Linked DNA regions of Homo sapiens. The protein of the gene in region 4 interacts with the protein of the main gene of each other region in a pairwise test. Each region holds a gene or a part of one and is shown on either strand. Other genes may lie near its edges. The genes, in order: ZDHHC1, PID1, MYOCD and GOPC.

What was found.
Region 1: the proteins of GOPC (region 4) and ZDHHC1 interact in binary tests that used the Homo sapiens proteins (3 or more experiments, as listed by UniProt).
Region 2: the proteins of GOPC (region 4) and PID1 interact in binary tests that used the Homo sapiens proteins (3 or more experiments, as listed by UniProt).
Region 3: the proteins of GOPC (region 4) and MYOCD interact in binary tests that used the Homo sapiens proteins (3 or more experiments, as listed by UniProt).

What each region holds. Positions count from the first base shown.
Region 1 is NC_000016.10:67,393,637-67,399,490, forward strand, and holds the end of ZDHHC1 (palmitoyltransferase ZDHHC1), read right to left. Parts: intron 5,821-5,854; coding exon 5,719-5,820; intron 5,309-5,718; coding exon 5,184-5,308; intron 5,096-5,183; coding exon 4,937-5,095; intron 4,689-4,936; coding exon 4,576-4,688; intron 1,931-4,575; coding exon 1,848-1,930; intron 1,645-1,847; coding exon 1,551-1,644; coding exon of another isoform or gene 1,427-1,550; coding exon 1,366-1,426; intron 1,258-1,365; coding exon 974-1,257; 3' UTR 516-973; downstream 1-515. UniProt on the Homo sapiens protein: Palmitoyltransferase that catalyzes the addition of palmitate onto various protein substrates, such as NCDN and NLRP3. Has a palmitoyltransferase activity toward NCDN and regulates NCDN association with endosome membranes through this palmitoylation.
Region 2 is NC_000002.12:229,268,274-229,275,921, forward strand, and holds the start of PID1 (PTB-containing, cubilin and LRP1-interacting protein), read right to left. Parts: upstream 3,015-7,648; 5' UTR 2,771-3,014; coding exon 2,741-2,770; intron 2,370-2,740; exon of another isoform or gene 1-2,369. UniProt on the Homo sapiens protein: Increases proliferation of preadipocytes without affecting adipocytic differentiation.
Region 3 is NC_000017.11:12,668,866-12,675,893, forward strand, and holds part of MYOCD (myocardin), read left to right. Parts: intron 1-2,996; exon of another isoform or gene 2,997-3,326; intron 3,327-7,028. UniProt on the Homo sapiens protein: Smooth muscle cells (SM) and cardiac muscle cells-specific transcriptional factor which uses the canonical single or multiple CArG boxes DNA sequence. Acts as a cofactor of serum response factor (SRF) with the potential to modulate SRF-target genes.
Region 4 is NC_000006.12:117,599,490-117,606,447, forward strand, and holds the start of GOPC (Golgi-associated PDZ and coiled-coil motif-containing protein), read right to left. Parts: upstream 3,023-6,958; 5' UTR 2,800-3,022; coding exon 2,515-2,799; intron 1-2,514.

The DNA.
Region 1 (5,854 bases), on a different chromosome or scaffold from region 4:
GACTCTCCGGGAGCCGCATCCCGCCCCTCCCCCGCAACTCCGCGGTCCTCGCGACGGCGAGACCAGCGCTCTGCAGTTCGGGGCGTCTTCGGACGGCCCCCTGAGGAAACAGCCTCCCATCCTGGGATGTGCCTAAAGCTCTAAGCGGCCCCAATCTCCAGAAGAGATCCAGCTCCCCAGAGAGTCAACCAGAGGCCACTGGGGAGCTGCGCGGGGCATTGGTGGGGCTTGGGGAATCGGGAAGGAGCTCTCCCTCAGTGACAGGGGTATACGGTTGACTCAAGAGCACTGCCATCCACTGAACGGATGGCACCCCCAGGCCACAACTCCCGTGCTCTCTTGGGTAGGATTCAGAGCCTGGAGCAGTGGGGAAGAAGGGAGGGGACTCCCTACGAGCGAATCGCGCTCGCCCAGCCCCAGGATGCTGGCATTCGACGGCAGCCCTGCTGCCGGGGAAAAGCTGCGGGACCTCCTGGCTCGGCCCCCTCCTTTCGCCGCCACCTCCCCACGGCCTCGCAGCCTCAGCGCCCACTGCTGCTTTCGGAGCCCAAAGCCTGCTTTCTCTCGGCCTCCCAGTGCAAAGCCCATCTTTAAGAAAAATAACCTCCTCCAGGCCGCCTTCTAAGGCCTTTCCTAACCACGAGCCGCACGTGAGCACCTCCACAGGGCAGCCTGGGTGGCTACCTACTATACAGGGACCTCCTCCCCGCCCCCGGTCCACTGGCCAGGGTCGGGCTTCTGGATGGCCCGTGGCCCCTGCCATTAAGAAAGTAAGCGCGACGTCCGCAAAAGCATAAAAAAGTTTATTGGAGCATCACAGCCGGTGGGGCGGGTATTGCTGAGTCGTGGGGGAGGGAGGCCGATCCCGCCGGCCGTAGGGGCCCCTAAAGTGCACTCGGTGCGGCAAGGATGGGGTGTTGCATAGAGAGTCAGGCCGGCCGCTCTAACTCGGCCCTCCGGCCTCTCGGCCCAGCTAAGCCAGACCAGCCTCCCGGCCGCCCGGCGCCCTGGGCTCGCCGCTGCTCGGGCTCACGAAAACGGCGGGCGCACGCGCCTGCCGCGCCAGCGTGGGCTGTCGGCCCCGGCCCCGCGGGGCGGCCAGAGCGGCGCTGCCCAGGCGCGTCTGCGCCACTGGAATCTCGTCCACGGACTCTGCCGACGCCGAGTGGTAGGCGCCGGCAGGGCCAGCGGCGTGCACAGGGCTGGCGTCCGCGGAATCCGTCGACGAGCTGGAGCGGCGGCTGGGGGCCCTAGGCCCTGCGCAAGGGAAGGGAACATGAGCCCAGTGGCTGCGGCTCGCTTGTGGCTCTGCCTTCCCCTCCCTCGAGTTCCCAGAGCAGGACCCGGACAGGGAGAGGCGCTCACCCGACGCCGGATCCGAGGTCTCAGACGTTCGCACTTTATACACGCGCCTCTTCCTCTTTTTCTGCAGAGACACGGGGGAGCCTGAGGGCCCCACATCGCCAAAAGAAGCAGAGGCGAGCGCCAGGGTAGAGGCTTCTTTCTATCCCACTCCACCTGGACCGGAGGCCCAGCACAGTCCCTCCTACCTGGGGTCGGATCCGGGGAGGCAGGGCGAGAGTGTCTGGGGAAGAGGGTGGTGGAGGTTCCGCTTGGCCACGGGTGGCAAGAAACTGGGAGGGACTGAGGGGGAAGCAGGAGGGTAAGCCTGGGGCCTGTTCCCCAAATCCCTCCCCACTGGAGGTGCTGAGAGAAGCTTCCCTTCCTGTTAGCTCAGAGAAGGGCCTGACCCATGCCCCGACCTTAGCCTACCCCCTTCTCCTGCCTCGATGGCCCTGCCATGCTAACTGGAGATGCCCAGTGGCACATGCCCAGGTTGCACTCACTTGGCATTCACTGCTGCTGGCCCGGCCTGGCCAGGGGGCTCTGGGCGCATATGTCTGAAGGTCCGCATGTAGAACTCCATCTCCTGGGGAAGGTGGAAGTCAAGGAGGCTGGGAGGCCAGGTGTGGCTCCCGAGCCTGCTGAGCCCTAAGCCCACGCAGTCCTGCCCTCATTGGCCTCTGTGGGATATCTCAGGCCTCATGCCAGGCTCCCAGCCATGCTGGGAAAACCCCATCTGTAGGGTAAGGCTTAAAACACCCATTTCTGGCCCTTGCCCCATCCCCAGGTCCTTACCTCATCTATTCAGCCTCTGCCTCCTGCAGGAAGGCTCCCAGCCCCCATGGGTCTATAGGCCCAGTTTAGAGAGGCTCAGCCAGGGAGTGGTGGGAAGCTCAGAGCTGCCCGCACCTGCTCCTGGTGTCCCCAGGGATCCAGCCTCTGAACCAATTGTTTTCCCCTGGCTGAGAAACAGGCCTGAGTGTGCATCCACCAGCTCCCGCAGAGCTGAGTCCTGGGCACACCCCTCGCCCTCACAGAGGACCAGCCACGATCCAGGCTGCCGAGAAGGGGCTGCGTAAATGCACATGCGGTGGTCTCCCTGCCACTACACCAAAAGGGAAGGTAGCAGGTGGTGGAACAAACAGAGCCGCAGCCCCACTGAGCACCAGGCTTATGGGCAAGCCCTGATCTTCACAGCAACCCTGAGGGTGCAGACGCGACCCCTGAGAGCAAAGGGGCCTTGAGGCCAGGGGGTTGCAGGAGTGGCCTAGTCCTGCACCCCCGCCCGCAGGACTCGCCCCAGCTTTGCCCAGAAGGACTCCAGGTGAGGAAACAAAAGCCTGGGGAAAGCAGGCCCGGGAAGGGCGTGGTGCGAGATGGGGGCGGGTCCCGGGCGGGGTGGGAGCCGGGAGGGGTTGCCGGGAGCACCCGGACAGCTGTCGCCAGTTCAGCAGCCGTTTCCATGGAGACGGAGGCGTCCTGACTAATGCAGAGAGGACACTGTAACAGCAAGGCCGTCTCTAAAACAAGCCTATGTTTGGGGGCAACGGCTCCAGAGAGGGGCCCCTCCCGCATTCCTGCTGGGGTGGGGGTGGGTGGCTGCCTGCAGGGCCCTGACAGATCTGGGGGAGGAGCCCAGCCAGCGGCCCCGCCCAACCTCTGCCCTGGCTGCTGCTCTGGAGAGGGGTGTGGGGGCGCCAGCCTGGGCCGAGGAGCGCGGGGTCAGGGGTCAGAGGCCAGTCACAGGGACTGGAAACCTCAAGATCACTCTCCCCCACACCTCTTTTCTGCCCCAGTGTGGACTCAGTGACCCTCTAGGGCCAGCAGAGGGGCAAAGCCCACTGGGGGGCCCTGGGCTCCAGAGGGGGGAGCAGAGGAGGGGCCAGCAGTAGAGGAGGTCTCAGAAGCTGAGGGGCCTGGATGGGAAAGGCGCCAGGCCCTAGCCAGCTCAAGAAGTCTGAAAGCGTCCCCAGTGAGTCCCCACTCAGAGCCCTGTCCTCTCTCGCCATGGCTGTCCAGAGGATACTGTCTCAGAGACCTTCAAAACCGTGTACATTCCTGAATGGTACTGGGCCCTCAGCCTCAGCTCTCTGCTTTGTAAAAGAGGACAAGAACACCACTCCTGTCCCCCGGGTTTGCCTCCCTCAAGTCACTGCAGATGGACAGAACAGAAATTAAATGTCTTCGCTGTGGCCACATTTGGCCCCAAAGCCTTGGCAGCGCAGGGCCAAAGAGCCCGCCCTGCTTCAGTGGGTGCTGCCTATGAGGCTTGAGAAAGTCTCCTGCCTACTTCTCTGGGCCTCCGTCTCCTCTTGATGTGGGGCTGGAAACAGTACCCTCTCCCCAGCACAGCTGCCACCATCAGAGCCCAGCACTGGGGCAGGTATACGGTGGTGTAACAGTGGAGTCGCCACCCACAGCCAGCATGCCCCAGGCCCAGGCCTGCCCAGTCCTGGCAGCCTGGCCCACAAGTAGTGTCCAGCCCTGGTGACAAGAACAGAAGAGGTGGGGTCCTAGGCCCTCCCCAACCCACCCACCAGCCTCTGTTTGTGTCCAGTTGCCATGAGGCCTCGGGATCCAGGGCTCAGCCTTCCCCCAGCAAAGCCTGCCCGGGCCCCGCCTTCCTAGTCCCTAGGGGCTCCTTTGACGACTGGATCACCCCCACCCCAGCGGCTGACCTCAGGAAGCCATGGGGCGTGGGAATGGGGATAGGCTGGTCAGCCACTGGCCTGGCCAGGCCGGCCAGAGCGTAGAGACCTTAACTCTTCCCAGACCCAGCTTGTGGTTAACCTTCTAGGCCTCAGTAGGCACATCTGCAGAAGAGGCTGTTCTAAGCATAAATTAGGGTAATGGGTATAAGCGCTCAAGGTCATGGATGAGGAGAAGTGATGGCTCCATCCTGGCCACCCATCACTGACCCCGTCGCTGGTCCATCCCTCTCTCTCCTGCTGCAGCCCCAACCTGCTTGCTTCCAGGCTCCCACATCCCATGCCCTCCCGCGCATGCTTGGCGCCTGGGCAGGTGTGTACGTGGGGTCCGGGAAACACAGGGCTCCCTCTGGCTGTGCCCACGCTTGGGCGAGCAGGCACACGCTCAGCACAAGCCCGGTCCCTGCTGCCCCCAGCGGCTGTTCCAGGCTTGCCTCCCTTGCCCTGTCTCCTCACTGGCTGCTCGCTGCACAGCCCAACACCCCCCACACCCAGGCCCCCTCCCACCCTTCATCCTCTATACCTGAATGGGCCGCATCTTGGGAGGACATGACTCGAGCTCCCTGTGAACCCCCTTGGCCTCCTGTGGTGGGCGGTGCTGCACGATGTACTCATAGGTGGTGAGCTTGTGCCACACTGGTGGGGGGAGGAGAGGGCTCAGTGCGGTGGAAGGGGGACTCTGGAGCTCAGAACAGGAGGGAGGACAACCAGCCCCAGGCTGAAACCAGTGTCCCCAAATACACGAAGCCATCAGGTGAGACCTGGCCACCATAGTGAGCCCATACTAGGCAGGGGCATGGTTTCAGGGTCCACCGTCCAACTGGGCACCTTCCTGCAATCTGAGGACCCCTGCGTTCCAGAAGGCAGGTGCAGGAGGCACTTACTGAGATAAATGTGGAAGCAGAGCAGGTGCCCCAGGAGGGCTGTGGACAGGAGGCCCAGAAGGATGAGCAGGGCGGCCAGGGCCAGGATGGCAGGGGCCTGGGTCTCCACGGGGGCGGCAGGCAGGAACACGAACCACACATCCGTGTGATTCTTCAGGACTGCAAGGCACAGGCAGTGTGTGCTCAGCCGGGGACGTGACGGGTGACCAGGGTTGGGGGTGAGAATAGGCCCGGAGCCTAAACTGACCTTCAAAGTGTCGGTTGGTGCGCAGACGCATGGGGTTGACAAAGAACTCCACGAAGACATATGTGGCCACCAGCACCAGGAGCAGGACGCCCAGTAAAGCGGATGCAACACTGTGTAGAAAGAGCCTGGGCCCAGCCATGGGTCGCTGTCAGCTCCCCGGAGCTCCAGCCTCAGAAGGCCCATAGGAGTTGGGGCTGTAGGGTCATTGCTATGGGCTCAGAGGGCTGAGGGTGACCCCACAGCCCCAACTCCTCAGAAGCCAAAGGCATACGGCAAAACTGAAGATGGGTGGCCACCCCATCAGGCAGCCCACATTTCTCTGGGCCAGCTTGGTGGAAGATTCCAGGCCCACCCTTGGCCATCTCAGCCGGCACCCAGGAGCATCACTCTCTCTGGGCAGCACCCCCGCATAAAACGGGCACAGGTCCTCGAAGCATCCCCATCCCCGCCCGCCTGCCATGCGAGCTGCAAGGTCTGTGGCTCCCACCCTCAGACAGTGCATCCCCAGGCCCGCGTGCGGCCGGGCTGTCCTCACCGGTAGTTCCGCTCGCCCACACAGTTGTTGAGCCACTTGCAGTGGTGGTCGAAACCGCACACGCACTTGTTGCAGGCGCTGCAGTGCTTGGAGCGAGCGCTCCTGCAGGGAGAGGGGGCACAGCGCGATTGGCCGG
Region 2 (7,648 bases), on a different chromosome or scaffold from region 4:
GTAACAATAATGATAATCAAACCTGATCAAAGATGCCATTTCCTGAGCAACGGAGCCAGTTGCTACACTCAAAAGTCCATTATTTAGAGGGTGACTGTTCTACGCAAAGATCTATCACACTCCCCTGGGACACAGACTTCTCAAACCAGCTTCATCGAATATGAACTATATCATCAAGAAAGGGTCTGGTTATTTTCTTCCATCCCCTCTTTTGATTCTAGGTATTGATAAAATAAATTGACTCCTTAGTCCTATTAGGAAGTTCTGGGAATGTTTCCTTGACGAATTTTCTTCACTCTGGCTCATCTAAATTAGAATGTTTGTATTAAAGATAAATGAGAAAAAAATTAATGAGGTCGAATGAGAAGGTTTATAAAGATTTGTGAAAGGCACATGGAGCTCAGACATCATTAAAGAGCAGAACTCATTCTCAAGTTTCCTATCCAGCATGATATCCACTGCTATCTCTGTGGCCACAGAGCCTGGGAGTGGCAAAGTGGCTTCTCACTGAGGAATCGGACAGGCATGTTTCTATATCACGGTGAAAGGAAAAGAAAAGGAAAAAACCCCAGACAGCAAACAGAGATTGTGACAAAGATAACCACAAGGAATGTAAATAAAATATGATAAGCAGCTCACTCACCATCTCATCCTCAACAGCTCTCTCAGAGGCAAAAGTAAAAACATATAAATTATGTGTTTTCAAGGAGAGTCAAGCAATACTCTTTGGGAAGAAGCCACGGATATAAAAAAATTTTTCCGCATTTGTCTCACTTCTCTAATCTCAAGGCTTGAGATGTATGTACTTTCAAAAGAGACTCATCGAAATTTGGGCAGCATGAAGTTGAGCCCCCTGTTGGTAAGGACCTTCCAACAGTGACTCGGTCTTATTGGTGATAAGCCCTGTTTATATGAGCTTTCAAAAGCCTAAAAACAGGTTCTTTCAACATGACACCTTGAAATAAAATAAACGCATTGCAAACACCAACTGCAATAAACCAGGCTCACGCCAAAATGCACACGTGCACATTTCACAAAATAAGGGGGAGACATTTCTAGTGAGGAGCAATCTCTATGGGAAGGCAAGCGAGAGCGCCCACCTGCCAAGGGTCACATGCTCCAGAGCGCACAGGATTCCCTAAGTGAAACAGGCCGGTAGGAAGAACTTGAATAGTCAAAAATCTACAAACTCTTCAGAGGTACAGATCATCAGGCCATAAAAGCCACCTCAAGGAATTTTGGTCACATCTCTCTAAGGACTTCCAAAAGCTACCCTCTGCACTTGAACAGGAAACCTGCCAGCTCCCCTCAATCATTCTGCTCCTTTGGAATAGAAGTTACGCCTTTAACCGAAGGAGAACTTCAAATGCGCCACTGGTATCTGGTGCCACTGCCAAAATATATTTACATCACCTTCTATCAGTCATTCAGAGCCCAGTGCTGATATTCTCTTAGTAAGACAAGGAGGGGGTTAGGAGGTTGGTCATCCACCTCCTCATCTGCAAGGCTAAATGCAGGTTTTCTTGTTTATTCTACTTGAGACCCTGGGGAACTGGTCTGGTGTCTCAGGCTCTGATAAATTGAACACACTCCCCGCAAATCATGGCCCAGGGAGCTTTGGAAAGGAGCTGTGGGGCATCTGTTTCTGCTAAATGCAATGCCCTCTGCGGGTTGTTCCTCTGTATGAGGACTCCTAGACAAAGGTTAGCCTCTCCCTGCATCTGAGAAACTGTGCTTGGGGCTGTAAATGTTCATTGAGAAGCCTCCAACCTAGCCAGGGCCTGGCCTCATTGTCCTAAGTCTTCAGATGCACTCAGCCTCCAATGGTGCTGTATTTTACCAGTTAAACACGTCTTCAAAGTTTACTACGAAACAATGTGGCTCCTAGCTTGCCAAAAGTTTAACTGCAGGATTCAGTGGATTTTATCTGGCAGAGTAGCTGCCGTGACTCTTGACAATATTTGCCAGCAAAAGGCAGTCCTCAAACCTTGCAACCAGGGCAATCCCAAGGCCCAACGTGTCACTGAAGGAGTTCTTCTGGGAAAGGTCCCTCTTTCTCTTCAATCGCCTCCCGCAAATCCCCAGCTTCCAGAATCCAATTCAAGGCAGTCTGGCATTTCAGGAGACAGCAGTAAAAAACTTTTGATGGGATAACCCAGGACATAAATATTCCTGGCTGAACCTACTTTTGATTCTTAAATATCTGAAGGAGCTTGGGTTTAAGGAAGATAAAGGGAGAGAACCAATGAATAGGGAAAAATAAAATAAGTAGCATACCATGACCAAGCCAAACCAAGCTTGATATTTCCACATTATATTGGCAAATGGATGCTTTCACATATCACTTGTTCTGTCTTTCCTGGTGACCACAAAAAAAAAAAAAAAAAAAAAAAAATCTGGCTTCAAAAATCCTAACCCCAGACCACTGCATTGTGTCAGTGGAATGCAATCTAAATTGCCAGTCAGAAAGTCCAACCTTATATGTACCAACCAACACGCACACAAGCACCTCCAAGCCAAAAGTTGTAACGCCTGAACCCGTGCGTTTATCAATTTCATCATCCCCATACCCCTGCCGGGTTCCTGGCGCTGGGTAAACCGACAGCATCATGTTGCCATCGATGCGTCTTACAAGATGGTTTTGGGCAAATCCCCTAAAGTAGGCAGAAGCAAAAACTAGGTTCCTCTGCCCGGGCACCTCCTCCTCCAGGCTGGCCCCCGGCTCCCGGGTGCCCCTTACCTGCAGGCGCTCCGTGGCCGGCTGCCACATCTTCCAGCCCTGGGTTTTGGCAGAGGAGACGCTGGCGAGACTGTCGATCGCGCCGGGGGGCGAGGGGCTGGGGTCCCGCTTTACATCTGGGGTCGGTGTCCGCGGGATGTGCGTCCTGGCGCTGGCCACCGCCGCCGGGTGGGCGTAGGGGGCTGCGAGCAGGAGGAGGCGCGGCGCTCAGCTGCCGGCAACTTGTGGGCACGGCCGCGCGCCGGCTGTCCTGGCGCAGCTGCGAGAGGACTGCGCAGCTCCGCCCGGGCCCGGCGAGCGCGCGGCGGCGGCGGGGGCGGCCGCTCCCTCCTCCCCCGCCGCCGCCGCCCGGACCTGCGCGCTCTGAGCATGCCCGGGGCGGGCGCCCAGGGGCCGCGCGGGGCGGGAGTGCAGCGCGGCCGACTCTAAATCCTAGTGAGGGGTGAATGGGGAGGCTAGAACAGCCGGCCCTTCCCTGCAGGAAGCCCCCATTGGGTTGGGGTCTGGGAAAAGGGACAGACTGGCTGAGGGGGGAAGGGCCTGGAGCCGGGGGTGGTGGGGGCAGCGGGGATGTCGGGGGTGGCGGGGGTGGGGGAAATTCCTAAAATAAGGAAACCGTAGCCCCGGGGGTCCCGGGTTTCCATATAACAGGCATCTCTGAAGTGCCTGTGCTGTGCCTGGCGCTGTGCTAGGGAGACACTTCCATTCATTCTTCCCACTCCAGTTAACTGAGCATCTATTAGGCTCCAGCCCCTATGCTGGGTTCTGAGGATGCAGCGACGCAGAATAGAAGACAAGAGAATGTTCCTTCTCTCTGGAGCTTACCTTCTGCTTTGGAGAGAGAGTCGTGACTGAGCAAACACATCAACAAGCCGGTGCTATATCGGGTGGTGATAAAACAGGGCAGATGTGGGAAGAAGGGGAGAGGAGAGCTTCTTAGACAAGGGCCCTGGGGAATGCCTGGAGTAAGACCTGAGAGATGAGAGGGATTGGCCACGAAGAGGCCATGCTTCATGATGGGGAGAGGACTCGACTCCTAACCTATACAGGGGTGAGGAGGGCCATGCAGACTCCCGAATCACTAACTCATCCTGAGATCTGCCAGGTGCAGCAGGAGGCTCTCAGAACCCAAGGGAAAGCCGCTCTGGGCTCGCAGGCCTGGAGGCTCCCCGGCTAGTGCCGGCCACCATGAGATGACTTCCTGTCCTAAACAGGCCAGCCCTTCCCATTCTCTTGACAACTCGGCAAAATAACTATTAATATTTTCACCATGTGGATCAAACAAATGAGGCTTATAAGGTTTAGGTCACTTGTCCAGGTCACACAGCCAGTGAGTGGCTTAGAGAGTGCACAGTCAGATGACTTCAGGGCAGGAGATGTGGCCCTGCGCCTCTAACTGACCATGGAAACCCAGTGGAAAGAGCATCCGTCTAGGGCTGGGGGTTAAAGGCACTTGGCAAGTCAGGGATACTAAGCTGATTCTCGAGCTGATGAAGAGTGGGAGAGGAGAACATGGTGGGAAGAACTCAGGACATAGAATGACCAAAGAGAGGAGCAGAGAGAACACAATGTTTGTGGGGAGCCCTAGGCTCCTACAAGGCAGGGTCCTGAGAGCAGAGGGGTGTGAAAGAGAGGCATTTCATACTGAGACAGCTGCACAGCTTGGGCCGTGAGCTACTCATGCAATGTCAAAATCCACACTCCATGTCTGGAAGGAGGATCTGTCCATTTTCCTTGTTCTGCATGACTACAATGATTTCCAGATATGGAACCACTCCAGAATCTAACCCTCAGCTCATCGGACCCTCGCAGCAACTCTCCGTGGGACAGAAGCCCCTATCTCCCAAGGCTTGGGGAGCACAGGGTTCACAGAGTCACACTGTGGGGAGTTACAATGGCGATTCAGATCCAGGATTCCAGGCAGATCCTTCTGGACCCTGCGGTTGCTATGTTGGTGCCACCAGCCTTGGCAAGCCCAGGACCCTCAGTGCCTCTAGGAGCCTCTGGCAAAGCCACAGAGCTGCCTCTGAAGAGCTTGTCTCTGTCTCCCTGGATATCCACAGGACCCTCCCACTCCTGCCTGATAACCACCTGAACCTTCTCAGCTCCTTCTCCAGTTCCTGCTACTTGTTCTGAACTTATTAATAAATCTCTTTTCATGAGGTGTTTGCCTGTCAGCCCGCACAGACATGTGCCTCACATGCTTGGTGATATGGTCTCTGTTTGCTTTTCCGGTAACTCCTCCTGCACACCTCCACACCTACAAAATTCCTTATGACCTTCCCAGCCCCCAGTTCTCTTTTATCAAATCCCAAAGTAGAAAGAAATGCAATTCATTACAAAAATCTAGAAAATCCAGACATGCATATAAACCCCACCCCCCAACCCCCCCAGGAAGCTAAAACAGGAATATTCAGTTGCCAGGGATGTCTTCAGACTTAAGCTCTGAAACCATCCTTGCTTGCAGATGCTTCCGTGGAAAAGTGATTTTGTTTTAAATAGCAGTGGAATGAGTTAACGGCCTAAATTCAAATCGCATTAGAGCGTTAAATCCTGTCTTCTCACCTCCAAACGTAATTAATTGTTATGACTCAGTAATACAGCTTTTAGTACGGAGTATGGTGCTATTTAAAGAGAAAAAGCTTTGGCTCTGTAAAGATTGCTTTCAGTTACCGTTCCCACTTTGCAAACAGATTTGGTAAAGTAAAGAATGTATTTAAACTCAAATGGCACTCCTGTTTCAATTACCTTTATGCCACGAATCAGGAAGCTAGGGGAGGGGGTGGAGGAGGGGCAATTGCAGGCTTGTGGGAGGTGACAAAAGGATGGGACAACCTCCCACTCATAGATTTTGCTCCCAAGTCTTCCCATTCAGGAGGAGCCTGCAATGAAGGGTGAATGAAATAGAGACATCTGCTGGCTAGAGATGAGACCTGCATGCCAATGTCTCCCAGCTCTGTTCTGTGACATTGGAACCTCATCCTTCCTGGTGAATCTGAAAATGCTGCCTTACGATGTAAACAGGTTTGTTCTGAGCAAGAAACCACCCTTAAAATGAGCAGAAGGTGTTTTGGTGCAATGAGTAGAAATATTAGGCATGTAAATGTGTGCCTAATTTCATGTACTTAGTCTCCTGCAATTACCGAAACAGGTCTAATCTTGTCAATAAATACCATTTGAAGGCAAATGACAGAAATCAAAAAAGCTTGACAAGGCACAGATGCGTTATTCACACATTTGGTTCAGAAAAATAATTACAGCATCCCTAGAAATTGTGTTAAGCCAGATTTGATCTAGTTCATGGTTCTGAGCCCTAGCATAAGCAACCTCAATGTCCAAGTCAGAGTAATGGTGAATGAAAGTATGGTCCAGCATATCAAAGAAATATTAAAATATTATGCAGCATTTAAAAGGATAATTATAAAGTTGTGTTGCAGCTGAAAATGATACAATTATGGTTTTTAAAGTAGGATAAAATGTATATAATTTGAATATATGTATAAAATATTTATCAATCTCAGTAAATGTTGGAAAGGAGCTAGGACAAGCAGAAGACTCAGGTTGAATCCCAGCCTTCGAACTGTCTACCTAGGTATCAGCTTTTCACAAGTCATTTGCCTTGCTGAACCTCAGATTTCTCTTCTATAAAATGGGTGATAATATTACTTAATACTTAGGATTTTGGGGAGGAGTGAATGAATTAATATGTGCAGCATGCCTGACACATGGTAGGTGTGTGGGAAACATTCGTTTTCATCCCCATTATGTTTCTTTCTCTTTTTATTATTGGAATGATCCAATTCTCACAAAGCGGCCCATGCTTCTTGTGGTTACACTATTTCCATTTGGAATATTTGTGGGTTTCAATTATTTGCTTTAGATTCTCAAATAAAAATGACAAAGGATATTCAAGCTCACTTACGATTCTTTTTTCTTTTTTGAGATGGGATCTCACGCTATCGCCCAGGCTGGAGTGCAGTGGCGCGATCTCGGCTCACTGCAACCTCAACCTCCCAGACTCAAAGCAATCCTTCCACCTCAGCCTCCTGAATAGCTGGGACTACAGGTTTGTGCCACCACACCCAGCTAATTAAAAAAAAAATTTATGGAGATAGAGTATTGCTGTGTTTCCCAGGCTCCCTGGGCTAAAGTAATTCACTTGCCTTGGCCTCCCAGAACGCTAGGATTACAGGCATGAGCCACCATACCTGGCCCACTTACAATTCTAACTTAAGCAGATGACAGCAAAATTTATTATGGTTGTGTATTTAGCAGAATTATCATTAAAAAGCCCTTGTTATGGTATCACTAACCTTATTTCAAAATCACCAAAACAGCTGTATATAAATGAGCAATATAAAAAAGTCTGAAAATTCATTCGACCATTTAAACCTCCCAGTAGTGACAGAACCACTGGCTTTCGTCCCTACAGAGTGATAGGAATGTATTGGGATGTTAAGATGACGCTTAACAGGGTAGGACTGGCTCATTCGTGTGTTGTGACTCTCCTACTCTTGACTCCTCATATCCTCACAAACCTTAGACACCTGATAGATTATTTTCAGAAATGCCCACAAAAATCTCCCCTCCCCAAGGAAGTCATGCCCATTTGCACTGTAACTTGCCTGCTTCTCTCATCATGAGATGCAATCTGTCCACATTCCTTGAATCTGTGCTGGACTTGTGGCATACTTGACCAATAAAATGCAGCAGATGTGACACTGTGGAACTTCTGAGCTTGGGCCACAAAACACTTTGCAGCTTCTGCTCTCACCCTTTTGGAACATAAGTCATCCTATGAAGGAGCCTGGACTAGACTCCTCAAGATGAGAACAACACAGAGGGAGGTCAGACCATGAGTTAGCACCCACAGCCAGATATGTGAGTAAGGTCATCTCATAACACCCA
Region 3 (7,028 bases), on a different chromosome or scaffold from region 4:
TCTATTATTAATATTGATGTGCAGTGGGACCGGCGGTTGGTCAGTTTCTCTGTCTCAGTTATTTAATCGGTAAATGTTGAGGTTGGATTAGGCAATGTCTTAGACCCCTTTGGTAACATTTTATCATTCTCTGAAAACACATAAAGATTGACTGGGAACAAGTGTAACTGTGATTGTGCTGTGTGGCAATTGTGTGTGAAGGAGAGGCAGTTTTACATGAATGTAGTAATTTGTGCTGATTTTAAACTAATCACATTTTTACAGTTTTTAATCTTCTCATGTTGTTTATTCAATATCTAATCAGTGTCACTATCAACAGTTCTCCTCCATATCAATCCTTGTGTCCTACAAAACACACAGGGAGGTACGTATGTGTGCCACACACAGGCACACACAGCCCTCAGACATAAAGGATCAAAAGTGGAGAGAGAGATCCATGAATGGATGTTGCTTCTAAAGAATCATTGTGTTTCTTTTGCTTCTCTCTCTCTCTTTCCCACTTCCCCATCTTAAACCGCGCAAACAGAGGCAAAGTCTGGCAATTGCCATGAACTTGACCCCACCCCCACAAATATAACCTTGTTCAGTTTAGCAAATAAAAATACAGAATGCTCAGTTCAATGTGAATTTCCAAGCAATAGTGATTACTTTTTCACTATATAGCAGTACTTGGGACATACTTTTCTCTGAAATCCAAATTTCACTAGGCCCTGTTATTCTTTTTGGCAACCCTACCTACAATCTGAGTGTTTTTTGTTGTTTTTTTTTTCTGAGACGGAGTCTCGCTCTGTTGCCCAGGCTGGAGTGCAGTGTCACGATCTCGGCTCACTGCAAGCTCCGCCTCTGGGGTTCACGCCATTCTCCTGCCTCAGCCTCCTGAGTAGCTGGGACTACAGGTGCCCGCTACCACGCCCGGCTAATTTTTTGTATTTTTAGTAGAGACAGGGTTTCACCATGTTGGCCAGGATGGTCTCGATCTCTTGACCAATCCGAGTGGTTTTTGATCAACACTTTCTGCTGCCCCATCCAATATCCTATCAAGCTCTTGAGATTCTCTGGGTCCCCAAGGACTCCCCAAAATGCAAAACTTGTACTTTAGGCATGAAAGCAGAAAACTCCAGATGGGGTGGGGGTACCATGAGAATGAACCCTAGGTCCCCCAGAGTACAGCCAGCTTATGGGTGAGGAAGAACATGGGAGCTTCACCTCTGGTCTCTGGTCGTCTGGCAAGGAGGAAGATAAGCTCAGCAGGCAGGCCGGTGCTCAAGCAGCAGAGGCTCCAGAGGTTGGAGCTGTAGTTAAAAGAAGGCAAAGAACATGCAAAGCAGGTACTCAAGAGGCTGTGGCTGAATTCAGGTAGTGGGACCCACCCCACTGTGTTCTTCTACTCCAATAGATGCAGGATCAGGCCCCTGGTGCCTGTAATTGGTTGCTTGTCCTTTCAGAGAGGGCAAGGGACATCTCAGCAAGACCCTGCAGTCATCTCTCTCTGTCGTTTCTCTATTCTCCATCCTTCAGACAACCTAAAAGGACGACTGATTCCTACTTTAAGCTAAATCCTCAACATCTCTGGCACTGAATTTTCTCTCTCAGGAATTGAGCTTAGCCTAAGAAGTCGGTCCCCAAGATTTTTATCATAATGGACAGTACTGAAGACATTTTCACCATGAGCTCGAGAGAAGCCCAGACTATCTACCTTCATTGGCAATTAGTTTTCTAGTTTAGAACAAATAATTTAACCTACAAGAGTACCTTTCCCATGATATGTAATATTTATGTATGTACATATAATTTAATTCACCTTTTTAGATCTCATTTTTACTTTCTACAAAATAGAGGGTTTTGACTGGTTTCTATTTCAAGTTGCTTTTAGCCCTAAGATTCAATACTTTTCCAAGGGAATGGCCCTAAATATTTTTGTAAATGCTTGATCAAAGCATTACATATGAGAATACAATTTAATGGACCTTAAAAAATGAACATATTTTAATTTCTACATGGAATGTAAAAGTTAAAGGAACATTTGGGGTCTGGCTCAAGCCACCTGCTTGAGACCATTCCTGTCTCCTCAAGTCCAGCTGTATTCGATTCACTCACAGCTCCCATGCCCTTCCCTCACCATCTTAATCACTATAGCAAGAACCCCAACCCCCACCTTCCCTGCCCTAGTTTTATTCATAGCTCTTATCACTATTGGACAGACTAAACCTTTTACTTGTTTATTTGCTTATTATTTGTCCATAACGGCAGAAATTATTACTTGTTTATTCGTGTTTGGTTTTTACTGTCTTTATTCTCTAGCACCTAACATAGTTTATAGGGTATTTTCCAGTCATTTCATATCATCTATGCTTGGCACAGAGAAGGAACCCATTAAATATATGTTGAATAAATAGGTTTTATTCTTCCTCTAAAGTCTATTCAAAAACATCAAAAACAAGCAATATAGGTTTATTGTTAGATGTGCGTTTGTGTGTACTAAAACTAGAACAAAAAGGAGAGGAGTGACTATAAATACAAAAGTCAAAGTCATAGCACAGTGGGAGAGGCTAAATAAGGAGGTAGGGGTGTAGCCGAAAGGTAAGAAGCAGGTTATCCCTATTGTTCTTAGGTTAGGCAGTAGTTGTGTCCATGTGTTATTAAGCAAATTAATTAAACAAAGGTCATCTATGGCTCAATGACGATAGTGTGACAGTGTCATGAACCAAGGATTGTGATTAATTCAATTCTGTGTACCCAGGATACTTTTTTAAAAACATATAAATTCTTTAAGACCAGGAAGAGTGGCATTTGTCTTTTATCTGCTACAGCATGTGACAGAAACAGTTAGCAAGATTGTGTCAAGTTGGCTTGAACCAGATTGAATGTGCTCTACTCTAATTGGATTAAATTGAAGAATAACAGAAGTGCAGGGCAGAAGCAAAATACTCCACCCAGGGTTAGAATTTTACATGCTTCAAAAAAGCCAAACCTGAATAGGAGATGCTAGAACAGGCTGCTTTTCATTTCCTTTATTTTCATCTAATTAGCAAGGCTTCCCGAGCATCTAATGAATGGTGAACAGGTACCCCACATCTCTGTCCAGATCAAGGGGGAGGAGCCAGCAGGTGCATTTCACAGGTCTCTGCTTTCCTGGTTCCATTCCTTCTGTCCTGTGGGCCAAGTCACAGTGGGAGCCCATCTGGGACTCCGTGGTCTTGGGAATATGTTTATATTCCCAGGGCTCTCTGGGCCTCTGTTTCCATATTGGTAAAATGACTCATGGTCTTCACATCCTCATACTTCTATGAGGGAAAGATCTTTGTAGAATTATTAAGGGTTTCTTTCTGAAAAGAAGGAAATTAGTGAACCTTTATTCACTGTGTGGAAATGGATAACTGGATCTGGTGGCATGTGAGTTGCATAAGAGTTCTTGCTTATGCGTGGAGTAGTTAAAAGTTTTCGATGAACACAAATAGGATTAATAACAACAACCATGACCATTAGCCCAATAATAGTTTTGCAGCCTTACGACGTTAGTACTTTGAATTTCTATTTTATTAGGCAGATAATGCTTATATGTTTCAGAATAGCTAGTAAGTCAAGCTGTCAAGCTTTACGTAACGAGATTTGGATCATTATTCTTAGATAAAACAGAAAGAGGTGTCCAATTTTTGTTAAAATAAAATGTATCATTTATCCCCAGAAATTTAGAATAAATAAAACTGTTTTGTGACTTTTGTTTTTCCAGAGCATAGCAAAATGAAGGGAGAATAATGTCTTTCTTTTCTCCTGCTGGTGAGGGAAGATAAGTTCTTTCTTTTCACTATTGGGGTACTTCTCTTATGAGTACAATCCCTCTGACTCATGGATGTTTGCTGTATTCAGCTACTTTAGATCACTAGAGAAGAAATTGAATTCAAAGTGAATTAAGCCACTGTAATATTGTGAGATGTATGTATTGGGTTCTCCTAGCTCTCACTTGGTTTGTGCAGCAATGATTAATGGATACACAGACCCTCAAATACTTAGTATGTCTTTATCAGCAATCCCTTCTGACACCTCAGTTTGAACTACTGCATTGAGTAAGTTTTCCCTTCTCAACTTGTATCTCCTTCCCCTTGGCCTCTTAAGTGGTACGAAAGCATCAAATTAGTTGTTTCTCATAAAATATGGTCAAATAACTCCAGGCAATATCCTCATTTCACAGATGATGTGAAATGACTAGAAAATACCCCATAAACTATTCTGCCTTTTCTATTTCCGGAAACACTCTCCTTAGGAAGCCAATCTTGTTTTCTGCTGACTGGTTGGGCTGGTTTTTCAGTCCTAGGTAAAGTTCCACAAGGAACTTTCTGTTATTTATTTGAGACTTACTGCCCTGTCTGGAGCTTCTAAAAAATGATTTCAAAAAAGTTAAATCCAGAAAATGCTGTTCAACATTAATTGAACAATAGTTCAATAGTTCTCCTCAATACATTATATTTTTTGTCATTTGTGTTCTCTTTCTGTCCTGGTCCAGTTGCATAAAGATTTTTACAACGTGATAATCAGAGTATATACATAAGTTTATACTCAGCCTTTTTATCGTTAGTATAATAGCATAAATATTTTTCAAGCGGCTACATAGCAACATAGTTTTTGCTTTAAAGACTGTATAATATTCCCCCAAGTGAGTATATAGTAATTTACTAAACCTTTTCCACTTGTATTGGAAAATTAAGCCAGTTATAATCTTTATATTATAAATAACACTACTATGAAAATCTGTATGCATAACACTACTGTGAAATCCTTCATGTAAAGAAAGAAAATATTTTCCTCCCTTTGGATTGTTTTGTAGGCTACTCATTATTTAGAGTAAATGCCTAAGTGTGGGAATAATGGATTTGAATATTTATGAGCTGTAATGATGGCTAGTGTTTTTGGAGCACTTACAATGTAACAAACTTAACTTTAGGCCTATTTCTATTTGGCGATGAATGCTTGTCCCTACTGTACAACTAACTCAGAGTAACCTTGGGTACTTACCCAATGGTGGCTGGTATCTGATGAGCCTTTCATACCTTTTCAGTAGAGATTGAAAAGGAAAATGAGTAACAGTTGCCTAATGCCTTTGGAAACTTCCATGTGGTCTGCTATTTAGGGACCACGTGTTACCAAATATGACTCATGCCTCATCAAAAGGGAAGAGAAGAGGACTAGGAGTTACTGAACCTATTATCTGTGGGCACCTTTATCATCTCATTTAATCCTTACAAAAATGTGATTATTCCTATCTTAGAGATGAAGAAGCTGAGGCTCAAAGATGTTAGACAACTTGGAGGCCAGGTATGAACGTATTTGTTCCACTGTCCCATGATGATTATCTCTATTATAACCTGCAGCTCCTTTCCTTCTTTCCCTGCCCCACCGCATAACCATACACACATACCTGACCCAGTAGATTTAATGTGCCTCTTTCTGGGCTACAACTCCAGGCATATATCCAATTACTGCTATCGTCCTTGATTTCCTAAATAGTGATTTATCAAACTAGTTGTTTCTAGTACTTAACCTATAAATTACACATGCCATTCCTACAAAGTCCCAGGGGTTTTAATAAAACTTGACTTTTTAAACTTCAGTTTATTTGAGAAAAAAAAATTAAGAAATTTTTGAAAGGCAACAAGAAGAAGAGATTTGCTCTAAGACATTAAACATAGTTATATAAGAAATATCTAGGAGTTAGTACCAGAAGTAAAACAGACAATTATTATCAGTGGATGAGAATTGTGTATATGTGCATGCATACACATATATACACTTATGTATATACGCATAGATTTAACCTCTGATAACAGTGGCTGTCCACTGTTTATCTACAATAAAATATGTAATGGGTTTGTTGAGAAAATTGACTATCTCTTTGGAAATAAGTAAATTGAGATATTTTATGATATACCTTAAAATAAATTCCGTATGGATTAAAGAGCTAAGGAAACCTATAAAATATTTGAAGAAAACAGAGGAGAATAATCTTTTCATCTCAGTGTAGGACAAGCCTTCCCAAGCTTATGGCCATGGCCAGGTTAGAAATAAAAATGGACATATTTGGTCACTTAAACACTTTAAAACTCCACATTAAAAAATCATCAAAATAAATTTAAAATCAAACTGTAGATTGAAAAAAATACTTGAAAATATACGTGAGACAAAATTATTAAAAGGACTTATATGAACAATAAGATTTAAAGCAAACAACCTAAGGGAAAGACAATTCAAGGGAGAAAATAATCAGTCAGCATATGAAATATACTCAACTCACTAGCGTTCAAGAAAATGCAAAGTGAAAGATCTAGATACTATTTTTTAAAAACTTCAAATTAGCAAAATTTTAAAATGTTGATAATATCGAGTATTGAATAGGCATGAAGACATAGATACACCTATCGTGTTGGTGAGCTATCCATACTGTAAAGTCTTAACAGATACAATTTTATCACAGTTTATAATGCCTAACCTAAAAAAGATGGAAACAGCATAAACATCATCTGTAAGGGAACGATTCATTAAATTACAATATATTCACAGTATAGAATACAATAAAACACAATGCAAAGCAAAAAGAAATGATAAAATTCTATATGAACTGATGTGAAAAGATCTCCAAAACGTAGAATTAATTTTTTAAAATTCAGGTTATAAAACAATCCGGCAACATATTTTCATTTATGTTTTTTAAAAAGTATTGGCCAGGCACGGTGGCTCACACCTGTAATCCCAGCAATTTGGGAGGCCGAGATGGGTGGATCACGAGGTCAGGGGATCGAGACCATCCTGGCTAACAGGGTGAAAACCCGTCCCTACTAAAAATACAAAAAATTAGCCTGGCACTGGTGGCGCAAGCCTGTAGTCCCAGCTACCTGGAAGGCTGAGGCAGGAGAATCGCTTGAACCCAGGAGGCGGAGGTTGCAGTGAGACGAGATCACGCCACTGCACTCCAGCCTGGGTGACAGAGCAAGACTCCGTCTCAATCAATCAATCAATCAATCAATCATATTTATATA
Region 4 (6,958 bases):
ATTCCATAAAAACGGCAGAAGCTGCTAAACGTGTACAGATTAACATCAAAGACAAACAAGTTGACTGTAACTGAAAAAACACAAACAAATGAACAAACAAACCAAAATCATTAGGATTTTTCCCCTCCCCATTTTCCTATGATCTTTAAATCAACAGTTTCAAGCATAAAAAATATGCTCACATTGTGATATGCTAGCATTTCCTATTTTGAGAAACAATGCAACCTCCTAAACCAGGACATAAAGTCAGAATGTGTGATTTTAATTTCTGAAAAAAGAACATGCATAATTTATTACAATTCTGAATACTCATCTAAAATATTTAAAGACAAAAAAAATGGAGCACAGCCTCCTACTGAGAAAATTATCCTTCCTCCCAATTTCAATTTTTATATCTGACATCAAATCCCTGTTTAAAGTTTCCTTAGGTCATTTTAAAAATAAATAAAATATTGTTTCATTTTTAAAAAGTTGTTAATGCCCAGTTGATACTGCAGTTGTAAATGATATGAAATTTCTCGTGTGATGTTTTAGTCCACTTTCTGTTTCTTATAACAGAATACCAGAAACTAGGTAATTTATAAAGAAAAGGAATGTATTTCTTACAGTTATGGAGACAGAGAAGTCCAAGGTCGAGGGGCCAGATCTCGAGAAGTCGAGAGCCTTCTTGCTGGCAGGGGATCTGTGCAGAGTATGGAGGCAGCATAGGGTGTCACATGGCAAGGAGGCTGAGCATGCTAACATGCTTACTCAGGTCTTTCTTCCTCTTCTTATAAACCACCAGTTCTACACTCCTATGATAACTCATTCATCCATTTATCCAATAACAAATCAATCTATAAGTGGATTAATCCATTCATAAGAACAGAGTACTCATGATCCAGTCTCCTCTTAAAGGCCCCACATTGGAGATTCAATACTGTCACATTGAGGATTAAGTTTCCCATACACGAAATTTGGGGGACACATTCGAATTATACCATGTGGTAAAGGCTACTCTTGATCTTTGTTGTTTAAAGCTAGAGAACTAATGGCCAGGCACAGTAGCTCATGTCTGTAATCAAAGCACTTTGGGAGGCCAAGGCAGGAGGATCACCTGAGGCCAGGAATTCAAGACCAAACTGGGCAACAAAGCACTCCATCTCTTTTTTGAAAAAAATATAATAAGATAAAATAAGATGAAATAAAGTTAAAGTACTATTTCTAGAAAACATTAAATGCAATTTCACTATCTGAGAAAAATAGCTTTCTTGTGGAAATTACTACCAATAAAGAAATCAAGAGATGTTTTCATTTACCTACAGTAAGAAGTGATTACCTTCATATTAGCACTTTCTAATCTTTTCAAAAAGGATAGAAGAAATTAACAGTTCTCGCAGTGGAGAAGAGCCACAATTCTTGGATATGTAAATCTATGTTAATCAAAGATTAATTATGCCACATATTTCATGGCTAATAGGAGAGAAAGAATGCTGACCACTAGGCAAGGAGAGGATGTTTAACTGACATTCATATTGATATAGATATAATGGGCACTGTCAATGACAACGAGTAATGATGATTTCTTAGGAAAGCATGTTCAGAGTTTTGCACATCACTGATTATCCCATTTTTATCTATTACACTTTTTGAAAAGAAAGACCCATTCTCTTAAATTGCCTAGTTAGAAAGTACTCTTTATGCAATAATGTTAATCTATCTTGATTTCTAAATATTTTAATAATGTCCTTTTTAAATTTTCTGCACAATATGATATTTTTGTTTTTTTGAACCACAGCCACTCCACCCTCACCCACACCCAGGATCAGAGATTAAAGCAAATGATTCTTTACACTCTCTCAAAAATAAATCCAGACTTTGGAAAATTACACAGTAATGTACAAGCATATAAAAACTCAAGGTCAGAAGTAATTTCAATAATTGCAGGGAGCTCTCTGGAGGTATCTGCCTGTAATTTAACAACCAACTATGGATGTAAACCGAGACAGTGATACTATCGTTATGCACCACGAAATTTTCCTAAGAGCTTTGATCAGATTCCCCTAAATAGTTTATGCATGTCTCTGTATGCAATCATAGGCGCTGACCTGGAATAATTAAAATGAAAATAATCAGTGCTGTATCTGTCTTAACATATACAAATTCGGTTTATCAATGTGAAAGCAGATCTGCAAAACTCAGTTGTCAAAAGGTGGCCTACGGTATTTTCATGACAGAGAATCTTTGTTAGGTTTGTTAATGTAACATGTGCAATGGAGGCTGGTGTATGTAATTAGTTTCCTCCTCAGAGAGATACTAGGAAGGTGGACGACAGTACCCCGGGAACTCACACGTCGGTCTAGGGCCCTTTTTGTCCCCCACCCTCACCTCACTCCTCAGACATGCACTCTCCCATCACATTTGAAGCCCCGGTGGGCAGTTTTCTAGGGTCGTTTCACTGGAGCGTTAAATGGCATCTGACGCCACCGGGCAGCCTGGGGTTGGATGCCATAGCCGCCAGCACCCACGGCTCACCTCCAGCTTGTGGTTGATTTGAGACACAGACTGGGCTTTGTGGCAAAGCTGTGCAAAGCAGGAGCTCAGGCTGGTCATCTTCTGTCGCCCCTCATAAGTGATGTCCGCTTGGTCTGGATCGATCTCTCCCAGGAGCAGATCCACATCCACAAAAGCTTTGTCGAACTCCTTCTCCAGCACCTCCAGCCACCGGAACATGGATACCCCGCCAGGGGCCCCCACGGAGCAGGAGGCGCCCCCTGGGCCCCCTCCGGCTGCTGCTGGGCATGGACCGCCCGCCGACATGGCGCCGTCAAGGGCCTCTCCCGACTGCTGAAGACCCTCGCCGCCCCCCGCGCACGAAGGGAACTGCTGGGACTGAGGGGACCCCCGCGCGCGCGGGCACACTCCGTCACCTCCCTTCACCTCGCGCCGTTAACGCCAGCAGCACAGTCACAGAACCGCAGGAGTAACGAGGCTGAAGCTGAGGCGGCAACGGCGGCGACACACGGAAGACTCAGTCAGTCCCACCTCCCAGCCTGCCCCCGCTGCGCATGCGTAGCGAAGAGCTGGGCGGACGCAGCCACGAGGGACAAAATAGGCGGGGACAGGATGCGATCTTGGCCTATGAAAGGCCTCAGCTTGGGAGCGGCCTGTCAGCGGCCATATTAACAACTGGCAAACTACGGCTTGAATCCCTGAGAAACGGAGGCGCGTGGTTTCTGCACCCTGGTTGGAAAGGCCCGAGGATGAGAAAGGTGTCCACGTCGCAGAAAGGAAGGATTTCCGCCGGTTTGACTTAACAGTTGGCGGGAGCCGTTCCAAAATCCTCCCAGAAAGTTGCTGCGGTGGCATCTAGGGTCAGGGAGGGGAGAGCAAGGAAGGGCGGTGTGAGCATGCGCAATAGCCACGTTTTTACCTTCTCGATTCCAGTTCCTGGATAGGATGGAGTGGGTGTACACACTGGCTGTTCTTGGTAAACCAGACCCCAAATTCCAGGTGTGGACTGCCTAAAGCTGCGCATTGAAGCGGCTGACCAGATTTTGCGGAATTAATAGAAGACTTTTTGTCTTGTGATTAAGAGTCAGGTAGACCTGGATTCAATTCTTACCCTCTGTCACATACTACCTGTGTCGCCTTTCATGTATTAACCTCGAAACCAAGTTTCCAAATTTTACTTAACTCAGTTGTAAGGTAAAACGCTTAGCGTCACTTCTTGGCACACGGTATTCCTCTTAATACACCATAGGTCACACATTTCAAAAGCAACTACAGTAGTGCTTCACTTAAGATGGGGATATGTTCTTAGGAATGTGTCCTTAGGTTAATCATCCCTTAGGGAACATCCTAGAGTGTATTTAAACACAAACCTAGATAGTATAGCCTACTACACACCCAGGCTATATGATGTAGCCTATTGCTCTTAGGCTGTAAACCTGTACAGCATGTTGCCATTCTGGATACGGTAGGCGATTATAACACAGTGGTAACTATTTGTGTACTTAAACATATCTAAACATAGAAAAGGTACAGTCATATACTCTTATAGGATCACCATAGTTTATGCGATCCATTCATTGCTGAAGCCTTGTTATTTGGCACATAACTGTACTTTAAAAGGTGTATTTATTTGAAAACTGGTAGTGTCCTCACACGTGACATTTCAGAAAATCAAAATTGTGAATTCATATATTTACAAATATATTGAATGCAGAGCTCTGTTGCGACATTGAAGACACAAAAATGAATGAGACATGACCCTTACTCAAGATAGGCTAGTGAGGCTACTACCCCTCAACTATAACTTTAACTTGAATTTTTCAGTGCCTTTAAAAGTATCCAGCAACTCCTCTCTTTACATTCTGCCTACTTCCAGTTCAAGGGTAGACAGTCCTAGAAAGGGAAAGAGAAACCTGTGTGATTAGAGTAGGCTGGTGGAAACTCCTGCATTACCTAGAAGCATATTTAGCTGAGTGCAGTCTGCTGTTATCTGTTCTTGGGGCAGACCCTTACGGTTAATCACAACCCAAAGCCTGCATTGTGTGCCCTTCGCTGATGCAAGGCAACTGAGGAGCAAGAAATCACAATTTTATTATTGCAGTCTTTGTACTGCATGGCAGACTGGTTAGCATGAAGCAATAAAGTCCTTTGGCTTGAGCAAACTTAGCTAATCAAAATGGATCATGAGATCCTGACCTTAGACTTAAGTAGGGACCTTCATACAGGTTTTAGTACACAATAAATAATGTAAAACTAAAATTTACATCTTTCCCCATTCCCTTCCAAAATTAGCTTTATTTTCATCTACAATATTTGCAAAAACATTGCTACAGCTATCAAGCTCCCAGCCACTTTATCTACACATAATACAGTTAGCAATGCATTTTCAGGAACGCGAAGTAAATAATTTAAAATTAGCAGGGCAGGGGGAGAATACATCGAACCACAATTATAATAGCTTTCAATTATTGAGTCCTTACTATGTGTTAGGCATTATGCTATTTTCTTTAATTCTTTGATCCTTACAAAATCCTATGAGGTAGGTATGATCACGTCTTTTATTGTTGTTGTTGAGACAGGATCTTGCTCTGTCGCCCATGCTGCAGTGCAGTGGCACGATCACAGCTCACTGCAGCCTCACTTTGTTGACCAGGCTGGTCTGGAACTCCTGGACTCAAACAATCCTCCTGCTTAGGCCTCCAAAAGTGCTGGGATTACAGGTGTGAGCCACCACACCCAGTAATCACTTTTTAACAGCTAAAGTCACAGACAGCTTAAGTGTCTTGGTAAGGTCACAAAACTAGAAAGAGATTGAGGTAGTATATCAATCTAGGTGTCTTTTTCTCCTAAGTTGTTGCTGTTAACCATGTAATACAGAAGAATGAAGGAATCTATTTCTTCTTGTAAAAGTTAGCAGTATAATAAACTAGCAAGTAAGTTCCAAAAGTTCTTTTTAATTTCTTCCTAGTTAGAAACCATATACAAATCTATTAACATATAAGAACCATTACCAAAAATTGTAATAACTCATTTTCTATTACTTGTAACTCTAATTTATATGAACCACACTTGAGTATAAATTTCATTTCTTTAAAAAATCAACTTCCAGCTACATTGTGTGGGTGCAGCTGAGTGACATTTTAAGTGTTTATATGTTTCCAGTGCTCTAATGGTTTGTGGGTACCCCCATTTTCGAGATTGCAGAACCCAGCTTCGTATCTATTACCTTTACAACTTCAACAAGTCATAGACTCATCTGTGTCTCAGACGAGTTTCATGTCATGTTGTCCCTTCTCATTACTGTAGTATGTAGACATAATCTTTTGCCCACCTGGATTGAGGTTATGCAAATCTGCAAGTCACAGCAGAACATGGATGTGAAAAGGAGGGCTTATCATCGGGGCTTGATGTTCAAGTGCTGCCATCTGTTGTCGGTGTACTCTATCTACACTTACTGCCTTATCCTTACCTACTCTGGAATTGGAGATTGCATGTAATGTCAATACTTGAGCGATTTGTTTTTCCACAGATATTAAAGTCTTGATACTTCTATTTGCAGTTGGATTGGCAGAAGCTTCCAATAACTGTTTTATGAATCATGCTTATGTGATTTTTAAAAAATATAACTTAAATGTGACACTCTTGTTTTAGGAACTTATCCCTACAGAGTTTTGTCACAAGGCATTACTAAAAATAAATTGGTTGGAGACTGAGGAAATTGGGGAAAGAGAGATGATGCTAAGGGTTTCTTTGATAGGTACTGGTAATTAACTGCGGGGTCAGTGTATAGTTTAAATATTTATGGAGCATCATTGATTGCAAGGGCACTGTAATAAAAGGGTGTATAAGACCCACCTTGGACTGGAGAGGGAGATTATCACTTATTGAACTCTACTGTGTTCCAGGCCCTGTACCTAACTTCACGTGTTTCATTTAGTTTCCAGTAACCCTACCAAGAGAAGGGGTTAAGTATATGCTGTTAGTGGCTATAACAAGTTGTATGTATGGTGAATGAAGAAAGTAAAAATCCACTAGCATTTTATTTAATCAATGTAGGAAAGGTTTGGAGTGTTGTATTCATACATATTATTTATATTTATTGAATTTATTATTCATATTACCAACAGTTTTGAAAATTTCAGATACATATGCTAAAGAAGTAAGTTTAGGAATCCAAAGGGATTTATTAGCCTTATTCTCCTGATTATTTCCCTTATATAAACAAAGGGATCTGGGTGTGGCGGTGTGCACCTGTAGTCACAACTACTTGAGAGGCTGAGGTGGGAGGATTTCTTGAATCTAGGAGTTTGAGACCCTCCTGGGCAACATAATGAGATCATGTCTCAAAAACAAACAAAAAACAGGACAACTGTTTGCTCTCTTGTTTTTAAAACTTGAGAATTTTGGTACAGTGATTTAGAATTAGCTCAGACACCTCCTCTTCCAGGAAGCCTTCCTTCTTTCT